Linked DNA regions of Homo sapiens: region 2 is linked to region 1. The links come from fine-mapping of genetic effects on gene expression. A gene starts in region 1. The other region holds a variant in brackets. All regions are shown on one strand. Distances are between the middles of the regions.

Region 1 (5,363 bases):
CTCCTGGGTTCAAGCGATTCTCTTGCCTCAGCTCCCAAGTAGGTGGGATCAGAGGCATGCGCCACCATGCCCGGCTAATTTTTTTTTTTGTTTTTTTTTTTGCATTTTTAGTAGAGATGGGGTTTCACCGTGTTGGCCAGGCTGGTATCAAACTTCCTGACCTCAAGTGATCCACCTGCCTTGGCCTCCCAAAGTGCTGGGATTACAGGCATGAGCCACCGCACCTGGCCACTAATTTTTTTTTTAATTTCATTTTTATTTTTGTAGATAAATATACACGTAGCCCCTCGCTTATCCCTGTCTGTAAGGGCCTCAGTTTCTTGCTGTGTTGCCTAGGCTGGCTGATCTTGAACTCCTGGCCTCAAGTGATCCTCCTGCCTCAGCCTCCCAAATGTTGGGATTACAGGCATGAGCCATGGCACCTGGCTATGTATTTATTTTTTGAGAGATGGCAGTCTCATTCTGTCACCCAGGCTGGAGTGCAGTGGTGCAATCATAAACTCATTGCAGCCTCAAACTCCTGAGCTCAAGTGATTCTCCCACCCCAGCGTCCTGAGTAGCTGGGACTACAGATGTGTACCACCGCATCTGGTCTATTTCTGCTTTCTTGGAGGCAGAGTACCTCTCCCCATCCTTACCCACTCAGAGGGTGCTAGGGGCTGGGCAGGGTGGGCGGTTGGCCTTGGGCTGGGAGCCCCTAACATAGTGGTCTGAGTCCATTTCCATTGCCGGAGAGGCCACGTTCAGCATGAGCTGGGGCAGGGGGCTTGTGGGGTCTCTTACTCCAGGGTACCATCTCGCTTGGATCCCAGTGAGCCCTCCCATGCCCCACACCCAGGTGGGGTGAGGTGGCCCAGGTCTGGCTGCCCTGTCTGCAGGGGTGGGCACCCATGGTAGCTGTGAGGCAGAATAGGGAATGAGGGTAGCCAAGGGTTGGGCATAAGAAACGGAACAGCAGGTGCAGCCAGTTCTAGGCAGGATTGGGCAGCTCACAAGCCACATCCTGGCTGCTGTGATAACAAGACAGAAATTTCCACTTCACCTCTGATTGGTCTCGGGCCAATCCTTCATAGGGTGTAGCCAATTGGAGGCCTCTAAAGGGCACAAGGGCTGTGGTCAGGTTTCTTTGCTTAATAAAAATCCTAATTACAGAGGCTCTGGAGCTACTTGCTCCAGCCCACTCCCACTCTGTGAATTGCCTTCCGTTAAATCTGTGCTTTCCTTACTCCGTTCTTCTGACTCAGTTTTGTTTCCTTGTGTTTCGTTGTTCTTTTGTTACTTTGTGCGTTTTGTTCAATTCTTTGTTCAACCCACCAAGAACCTGGACAACTCACCTCCAAGACCTTCTATCTGGTAACAGCTGCAGGAGCTGGAGCTGTGGGCCTGGGGACAAGTGTCCTAACAGCCCCCGCTCCCTGCAGCGAAGGGTCAGCAGAGGTGGCGCTCTAGGGGGGCCTGGGCACAAGTTCATAGGATCCTGCCCTGGAAAGGTTGTGGGCAGTTGGGGGGCAAGGGAGACAGTCCCCACCCAAACCCCAATGCCCCCTAGCACCCAAGGTGGTCTTCTCTCAATTGAGGAGCTCTTTGGCAAGGGCGGGTCTAATTTCTGGTGTCCCTGGAACCGGCCAGGGGTGTCTAAGAAAGGGACTCAGGCTGGTGTTCGGACCCCTTCTCCCTTATCCAGACGCAGGCCTTTGGTCCAGCTGTCCCAGCCAGGGCCTGCTCACCCCTGTCCCCTGCCGGGTCCCATCCCCCCCACCCACCCACAGGTCTCAGTTTAGGTGTCAATATCAGAAGCCCCCTCTGTGCTCCGGTCTCTGTACTCCGCCCCCTTGTCAGTGTCCTCTCCCTGAGGACAGGGGGCTCGGTAACTGGGTTTCCAAGAGCCCTGCAGGGACACCCCCTCTTGGGAACTCACACAGCGCAGCCAGGTCGCTAAGCCTTTGAGGGGCCCTTGTTGCCTCCTGGGTGTGCGTGCGACCCGCGCCCACTGTGGTCCCGCCCTACTGATGACCGTGAACCTGTAGGGTGTTGGGCCAGCCCCTCACCCCAAGGCTGGGCAGGCCCCCGGAGTCCCCCTCGGCCCAGACAGAAGCTCCCTCAGGAGCGGGGGAGGGGAAGGGGGCGCGCGGTCCGGCCCCAGGTGTGGCCGCGGATAATGAGACCCTGGGGATGGGGGCGCACCTGCGCCACGGCGCCCCGCAGAGGGTTTCCCAGGAGACCCCCTCGGGCTCCCGCCGCGCCGTGGGGGTGGGGCAGCCCTGCTGGCCAGAGCCGGGCACGGGCCGGGCGGGCGGCGGGGATCGTGACCGCGGCTGCGTGCGTCCGCGTCCGGGCGCTTCTGTGCGGGGTCCTGGCACGCCGGCGGGGGCGACCCGGGTGCCGGCCCGTGCGGGCGACACGCGCGTCTCTGCGGGGCTGCGCGGGGTCCGGAGCGGCTGGGGGCTCTCTGCCGGGCGCGGCTGGGCGCGGGGGGCGCTCCCGGCCGGGATGAGCTCACCGCAGTCGCGCCGGGGCTGAGCGCCGAGCGGGGCGGCGGCGGGGCGGGCGGCGGCTCCTCGGCGGCTCCGCGGCGCCCGGGCCGCGCGCCGCCATGCTGGGCCTGGACGCGTGCGAGCTGGGGGCGCAGCTGCTGGAGCTGCTCCGGCTGGCGCTGTGCGCCCGAGGTGAGCGGGCCGGGCAGGGGCGGGGGGCTCGGCTGGTCTCAGCCCCGGGCGGGGAGTAGCCCCTCCCCCGCGGCAACTTTGGGGGCGCGCATGGGGACCTCGCGGCGCCGACCCCCCGGCTGGGGTCTGGCAGGGGTGGGGGACTTCATCCAGGCTCCAGCCCTGTGGGGAAGGGACCAGGTGCGGACGGGTCGGCTTGGGAAGCGGCGGCGCTGGGACCCTCTCCCCCTGGACACCGCCGCCTGGAGCCCCTCTGTCTTGGGTGGGGCTGGGGCTGGGGCTCAGGCTCTGTAGGGCGTGTGGTGATCCCCGAGAAGACGGGAGCGAAGTGGGCAGGGACTCAGAAACCCCTGCCCAGGGCACCAGGGAGAGGGGCTTCAGGAGGCCACCAGCCCGGGGCGCCATGGGAGGCGGCGCAGAGCCTGAGCCCAGGGATTTGGAGACAGCCGCCCCCGGCACCCGAGCACCATGGGGAGGAACTCCTAGACTGTGGGAAAGTGTTCAGAGACCCCAGTCCAGAGCAGGGTGGTGGAGGGCCCTAGAGGGTCAGTAGGCTTGGGGGGCCGCCGAGGGCCCTAGAGGGTCAGTAGGTTTGGGGGCCGCCGAGGGCCCTAGAGGGTCAGTAGGTTTGGGGGCCGCCGAGGGCCGCTGCTCTCTAGCAGGTAGCCCCTGACCCTGGGCTGCCCTCATCTGAAGTCTTCGCTCCCCCGCCCTTTGGTCTCCGAGTCAGGGAGGGGGCCCTTGTGGACATCTGGGCCAGAGGAGCTGCAGGCCTGGCGGTCTCTGGAGGCCCCTCCTGAAGGTCTGGGTGCGGTGCGGCACCTCCCCAGGCCGCCCTGCTCTCTCTGCTCGCTCTCTCCCTGAGCCCCCAGAGGCTTCCCTTGAGTCCCTTTGGATAGTGGGAGGTACAGCTGGCCAGAGGGGGCTCCAGCCTGGTGCTCGAATGCCAGGGTCCGCTAGTGGCTGCTGCTCACGCCCCTCCCCACCCCCAGTCCTCCTGGCTGACAAGGAGGGTGGGCCGCCGGCAGTGGACGAGGTGTTGGATGAGGCTGTGCCCGAGTACCGGGCGCCGGGGAGGAAGAGCCTCTTGGAGATCCGGCAGCTGGACCCGGACGACAGGAGCCTGGCCAAGTACAAGCGGGTGCTGCTGGGGCCCCTGCCACCGGCCGTGGGTATGGCAGGGGTCTAGGCTTGGAGGGCTGGGTCTGGGGGGCTGGTGAGGAGCCTGGTGGGGGTGGGGGGCATCCTGCAGACTTCCAGTTTCTCCTCAGACCCAAGCCTGCCCAATGTGCAGGTGACCAGGCTGACACTCCTGTCGGAACAGGCTCCGGGGCCCGTCGTCATGGATCTCACAGGTAACTCGCAGGATGCTGCACCCTGAACACAGGTAGGGCCCTCCCAGGCACGCTTCTGCACCCCTGAGTTCCGAGCCCTGGGCCATCACAGTCGCACACCTCATGGGTACCACACCCTACGTGGGGGCTCCTGGAGCAGGTCTCAGCCTGTAGGGGAGTTCCGACCCTAGCTGAGGTTTCCCCAATAGGGGACCTGGCTGTTCTGAAGGACCAGGTGTTTGTCCTGAAGGAAGGTGTTGATTACAGAGTGAAGATCTCCTTCAAGGTGAGAGCCGGGGCAATGGGCGGAGGGGATGGGGGTGGGGGCAACAGCCAGAGGCCTGGCCCCCAGAGGAACCCCTAATGCCTCTGTTCCCAGGTCCACAGGGAGATTGTCAGCGGCCTCAAGTGTCTGCACCACACCTACCGCCGGGGCCTGCGCGGTGAGGGCAGCGGTGGGGGGAACGGGGCGGGGGGGGGAAGCGGGGGCAGACAGAGGACAGCTCTGATGCCCTCGCCCTCCCTAGTGGACAAGACCGTCTACATGGTGGGCAGCTATGGCCCGAGCGCCCAGGAGTATGAGTTTGTGACTCCGGTGGAGGAAGCGCCGAGGGGTGCGCTGGTGCGGGGCCCCTATCTGGTGGTGTCCCTCTTCACCGACGATGACAGGACGCACCACCTGTCCTGGGAGTGGGGTCTCTGCATCTGCCAGGACTGGAAGGACTGAACCCCCAGTCCGTGTCTCCCCTACCTCCCTCAGTTGTTGCACAGGGACCCCCAAGCATCCCCAGCACCCCCCGTGAGTGACCAGACCCTCCCCTGCTGCCCCTGCTGCCCCTGCTGCCCCTGCTCTGTCCCGGGACCCCCTGGCCTGGCGCTGTCCCCTGAGCTGTCCCATTAAACATGGCCCTGTCTCTCTCGGTGCCCTGGGTGTCGTCTCTTTCTGCCTCCCCTCCCCTGGGGGCCGGGGGCGGCCGCATGGGCCTTGTCTTTGCTGGGACTGGGCCTGTGTGCCACGTGGCAGCTGCTGCTTGGCTTCTGGCCCCCTTATCTGCCCCCGCCCCACGCGCCCTGGCAGCACCATGAGCCGCCAGCTTCTGCCTGTACTGCTGCTGCTGCTGCTCAGGGCTTCGTGCCCATGGGGTCAGGAACAGGGAGCGAGGAGCCCCTCGGAGGAGCCTCCAGAGGAGGAAATCCCCAAGGAGGATGGGATCTTGGTGCTGAGCCGCCACACCCTGGGCCTGGCCCTGCGGGAGCACCCTGCCCTGCTGGTGGAATTCTGTGAGTGCTGGGGCCAGTGGGGCTGGGGACCGGCGGGGGACCGGCAGAGCCCACCTGGGGGCCCCACCCTTTGCCGGCAAAT
Region 2 (5,363 bases), 38 kb before region 1:
CTGAAGCTCATGTTGAATTGCTGTCAAATGCCCAGCGTGTTCTTGGTGGTGACACAGCCACATTGTGTAAATACATTTCTTAAGTCATTTGTGTGTATAGCAGCTGGATTTGGGGACAAGCATTTGGGCACACTCGCTACAAGATTGGTTAGTGATTATGGATGATGAAGTCTGTCGGAAAATTCAGATCTTGATTGTGAGTTATCTTACTTGTCTTTTAAGTTCTCTTTCATCCATTTGGCTCAGGGGACACAGCAGACATCTTCCTGGCCTTAAATAGCTTTCTTTCTGCCAGGTAAGAGAAGTATGATGAGTGCTTTGAAAGAAAAATACTGAGTTCTCTGGGGTGGAGTGTGGTTAACCAGGGTCAGTGGGGGTCACCCCAAACTTATTTAAGGCTTGAGCCGCTGCATCTGGGTGTATTTTTTTTTTTTTTTTTGAGACAGAGTCTTGCTCTTGTTGCCAAGGCTGGAGTACAATGGTGCGATCTCAGCTCACTGCAACCTCTGCCTCCTTGGTTAAAGCGATACTCCTGCCTCAGCCTCCCTAGTAGCTGGGACTACAGGCGCGTGCCACCACGCCGGCTAATTTTTGTACTTTTAGTAGAGATGGGGTTTCACAATGTTGGCCAGGTTGGTCTCGCACTCCTGACCTCAAGTGATCCAGCCGCCTAGGCCTCCTAAAGTGCTGAGATTACAGTTGTGAGCTACCACACCCAGCTGGGCTTATTATTTTTAATCCATTGACAAAATCTTTTCAGTTTCTGTTTCTAACTGGTGAAACTAGATAGTAACATTAATCTATAATCATAGTTTTCCTCTAAATATTAACTAAATATTTTATCCATTTAAAACACTGTTTTCTTCTCTTTTTTTTGAGACAGGGTCTTGCCCTGTTGCCTAGACTGGAATGCAGTGGTGTGATCTCCGCTCACCTCCCAGGCTCAAGGGAACCTCAGTCTCTCGCACAGCTGGGACTAGAGGCACATACCACCATACCCGGCTAGTTTTTGTATTTTTTTGTGGAGGTAGGGTTTTGTCATGTTGCCCAGGCTGGTCTCGAACTCCTGCGCTCGAGTGATCTTCCTGCCTCCTGCTGTAGCCTCCCGAAGTTGCTGGGATTACAAATGTATGCTACTGTGCCTAGCCTTAAAACACTTATCTTGACCGCAGAGGAGGTCTACACAAAAAGAAAGAAAAAAAAAAAGCTGTCTGCTTCAGGCTGGGCACGGTGGTTCACACCTGTCATTCTAGCACTTCGGGAGGCAGAGGTGGGAGGATCACATGAACCCAGGAGTTACAGAGGAGCCTGGGCAACATAGTGAGGCTCTCATTTCTACAAAAAATTTAAAGATTAGCTGAACAAAAATTAGCTGGTGCATGCCTGTGCTCCCAGCTACTGGGGAGCCTGAGGCGGGAGGATCTCTTGAGCCCGGGGATTCAAGGCTGCAGTGAGCCATGATTGCACCACTTCATTCCAGCCTGGGCAACAGAGCAAGACCCTGTGTCAAAAAAAAAAAAGTTTTCATCAAATTTCTGCAATTAAAAAAATTAGAGGCCGGGCGCGGTGGCTCAGGCCTGTAATCCCAGCACTTTGGGAGGCCGAGGCGGGCGGATCACGAGGTCAGCAGATCGAGACCATCCTGGCTAACACAGTGAAACCCCATCTCTACTAAAAATACAAAAAATTAGCCGGGCTTGGTGGCGGGCACCTGTAGTCCCAGCTACTGGGGAGGCTGAGGCTTGAAACCAGGAGGCGGAGGTTGCAGTGAGCCAAGATTGCACCACTGCACTCCAGCCTGGGCGACAGAGCGAGACAACGTCTCAAAAAAAAAAAAAAAAAAGGCAATTAGAATGAGACTTTTGTTTTTATTTTCTGTTCTCTGTGACTCAGTAAACTTCTTAGAGAAAGAACTCTTGGAGAAAAGGGAGAGACCTGTCACTTCCTTTCTGCATGGACTGTGGTATTCCTGCCCCACCCCTGCCGAAATGTTAATGAGCTGTGCAAACTACTGCTGGATTGTTTTGTTCTTCCCCCTAATCAGAGTTTCCACTCAGGACTGGGTAGCCTGTGGACTCCCTGGAGGACAGATAGGTGTGGCAGCCTCAGTGGCCTAGAGTGGACAGCTGGTTTACCGATAGTCCTTTTTTTTGAGACAGAGTCTTGGTCTATCACCCGGGCTGGAGTGCAGTAGTACGATCTTGGCTCACCACATCCCCTACCTCCCAGGCTGAAGTGATTCTCGTGCTTCAGCCTTCCCAGTAGCTGAGACTATAGGCAGACACCAACATACCCACCTAATTTTGTATTTTTAGTAGAGTCGGGGTTTCACCATGTTGGCCAGCCTGGTCTTGAACTCCTGTCCTCCAGTGATCTGTCCACCTCGGCCTCCCAAAATGCTGGGTTTATAGGCACGAGTCACCGCGGGCTTACTGATAGTTCTGTAGGCCAGGGGAATAATCCGTTTGAATAACCATATATGAGGTATTGTGTTTATCTTTCTTTCTTCAAGTTATTCTTGGTGTCAGCTCCTTTTTTTTTTTTTTTTCTGAGACAGAGTCTCGCTCTGTCGTCCAGGCTGGAGTGCAATGGCGCTATCTCAGCTCACTGCAACCTCTGCCCCCCGGGTTCAAGCGATTCTCCTGCCTCAGCCTCCTGAGTAGCTGGGATTACTGATGCACATCACCACGCC[T/C]GGTTAATTTTTTGTATTTTTAGTAGAGATGGAGTTTCACCATGTTGGCCAAATTGGTCTCGAACTCCTGACCTTGCGATCCACCCACCTCAGCCTCCCAAAGTGCTGGGATTACAGGCGTGAGCTACCACGCCCATCCCGTGTCAGGTCTTTTACCTTAATTAATACGTATTGTATTGACAAATTTTCTTTTCTTTCTGAGCCCTCACTTTTTTTTTTTTTTTTGAAACAAGGTCTCACTCTGTTGCCCAAACTGGAATGTAGTGATAATGATCACAGCTCACTGCAGCCTCAACCTCTTGGGCTCAAGCTAACCTCCCACCTCAGCCTCCCAGGTAGCTGGGACTACAAGCACATGCCACTACACCTAATTTTATTTTACTTTTTGTAGAGATGGGGTCTCCCCATGTTGCCCAGACTGGTCTCGAACACCTGGCCTCAAGTCATCCTCCTGCCTCAGCCTCCCAAAGCACTAGGATTATAGGCGTGAACCACCCTGCCCGGCCATGAAGTTAAATTTTTGGTTATTAGCTTGTTGAGTTCTGTTTTCTGTTTTTTTAAATAGCCACATGGCCTGACTCTCTGTGGTCAATGGTATGGATGCTAAAGTAGAGCAAGGACAGTGCCCTGCTCAAGTCTCTCTGACCTGGGTCCATGGGGATTTTCTCTGCCAGTCAGGTTCCTGAAGCTCTGGCTACGGCTCCTGGTATTTTTAATGACCGCAGTAGAGAAAAACATTGGTATCTTCTTGCTGTTGATGAGCAAATCTTTGGACCTGTCTCATGGTGTCTTTATTTGCAAACTGGTTGAATCATGAACTGCCTGGCTTTGGCTGCCTTGCCGTTGTGGCTTTTAATAACTACCCCTATTTCTGGTGGCTCAGTCAAGTTTCCAAAAAGGAAGTCTTACCTGGAGATCCTGTGAAGGAATTCCTGACCAGCTTTTTAATTTTCCAAAGACAGGCCTTATTCGTGTTAAACACACACCCCTTTTCTGTGGCCAGGCCGGTGTGAAAGCATGTGCAGAGGCTGTATAGCAGTAAGAGTTCCCACCCCTTGGGGCATTTTCATTGTCACCACATTGTCTGACTTTGGAGACGACCCCTTTTAAACTCTGGCATTTGCTCAGGTAAGTATTTGGGGAGTATTGTTATAAATGCTGTGCATATCCGTTTTTTCCCCACAGTGGAAAGGAAAATGATTTTTTTTTTTTTTGAGTCGGAGTCTTGCTCTGTCACCCAGGCTGGAGTGCAGTGGTGCCATCTCGGCTCACTGCAACCTCCGCCTCCCAGGTTCACACCATTCTCCTGCCTCAGCCTCCTGAGTAGCTGGGACTACAGGCACCCGCCACCACGCCCGGCTAATTTTTTCTATCTTTAGTAGAGATGGGGTTTCACCGTGTTAGCTAGGATGGTCTCGATCTCCTGACCTTGTGATCCACCCGCCTTGGCCTCCCAAAGTGCTGGGATTACAGGCGTGAGCCACCGCGCCCGGTCGGAAAATGATTTTAATGGATGGTTTTGAGGAAGCTGGTGATTATTTTGTAATGGAGAATTGTAACATGCCAGGGGTTTGGCTCTTCTTTCAGTATTTCTTCAGGCTACCACAAAACTCCACTATTGATATTCTTCCAAAAATAAACAAAACACTAAAAGGACTCCTGCCTTTGGAACAAAATAGCTTCATATTAAGGTAGCTTTGAGGCACAAACCAAGCTGCCTGTGGAGAAGCTGGTTCTTCCTCTAAAACTTACATGAACCTCTGACCCCACTCCCCCTTACTAACGGTTTTCTTTTCTCTTTTGATTTTCTATTTTATACTTTTTATTTTGGACTACTTATAGATTCACAAAATGTTGTAAAAATAGCACAGGGCTGGACCCTGAAGTCTGCTTCCCTGAATGGTAACCTCTTTTTTTTTTTTTTTTTTTTTTTGAGACGGAATTTTGCTTTTGTTGCCCAGGCTGGAGTGGAATGGCACGATCTTGGCCACTGCACCCTCTGCCTCCCAGGTTCAAGTGATTCTCCTGCCTCAGCCTCCCGAGTAGCTGGGATTACAGGCATGCACCACCACGCCCGGCTAATTTTTTTTTGTATTTTTAGTAGAGATGGGGTTTCTCCATGTTGGTCAGGCTGGTCTCAAACTCCCGACCTCAGGTGATCTGCCCGCCTCAGCCTCCCAACGTGCTGGGATTACAGGCATGAGCCATCGCGCTCGACCAATAACTACCATTTCAAATTCCCACGACTATTGTACTGCAGACCTGTTATCGTATATTCTCACCAACACATTTTAAAATGCTTAACTTTTAGGCTGGGCGTGGCCCACACTTTGGGAGGCTGAGGCAGGCAGATCACTTGGGCCCTGGAGTTTGAGACCAGCCTGGGCAACGTGGCGAAACTCTGTCTCTACAAAAAATACAAAAATTTGCCCGGCGCGGTGATGCACACCTGTGGTCCCAGCTACTTTATAGGCTGAGGTGGGAGAATCTCTCGAACCCAGCAGGAGGAGGTTGCAGTGAGCCTAGATCACCACTGCCCTCCAGCCTGGGCCACAGAGTGAGACCCTGTCTCAAGATCAGATAAAATGAAATGCTTAACTTTTGTTAATGTCATTGGTCCTGCTGTGTCTATGAGTGAGACTGAGTGTGTTTCCCCTGGGCACCGGCCACT

What was found.
Region 2: its variant is fine-mapped to the expression of ARHGDIG in skeletal muscle (GTEx, PIP 0.98).

Annotation. Positions count from the first base shown.
Region 1 is chr16:278,088-283,450 of GRCh38, forward strand. It overlaps ARHGDIG (Rho GDP dissociation inhibitor gamma), which reads left to right and starts at 2,504. Exons shown (of 6, transcript NM_001176.4): 1 at 2,504-2,666; 2 at 3,659-3,838; 3 at 3,938-4,021; 4 at 4,210-4,286; 5 at 4,380-4,443; 6 at 4,528-4,923. The coding sequence starts at 2,594. The coding sequence ends at 4,727. PDIA2 (protein disulfide isomerase family A member 2) reads left to right here and starts at 5,077. Exons shown (of 11, transcript NM_006849.4): 1 at 5,077-5,281. The coding sequence starts at 5,083. RefSeq lists an enhancer at 2,645-3,402.
Region 2 is chr16:240,081-245,443 of GRCh38, forward strand. All of the region lies in intron 1 of FAM234A (family with sequence similarity 234 member A), which reads left to right. Among named protein-coding and RNA genes, the nearest start is that of FAM234A, 7.9 kb to the left of the region's middle. The variant T/C (reference allele first, on the strand shown) is at 2,693.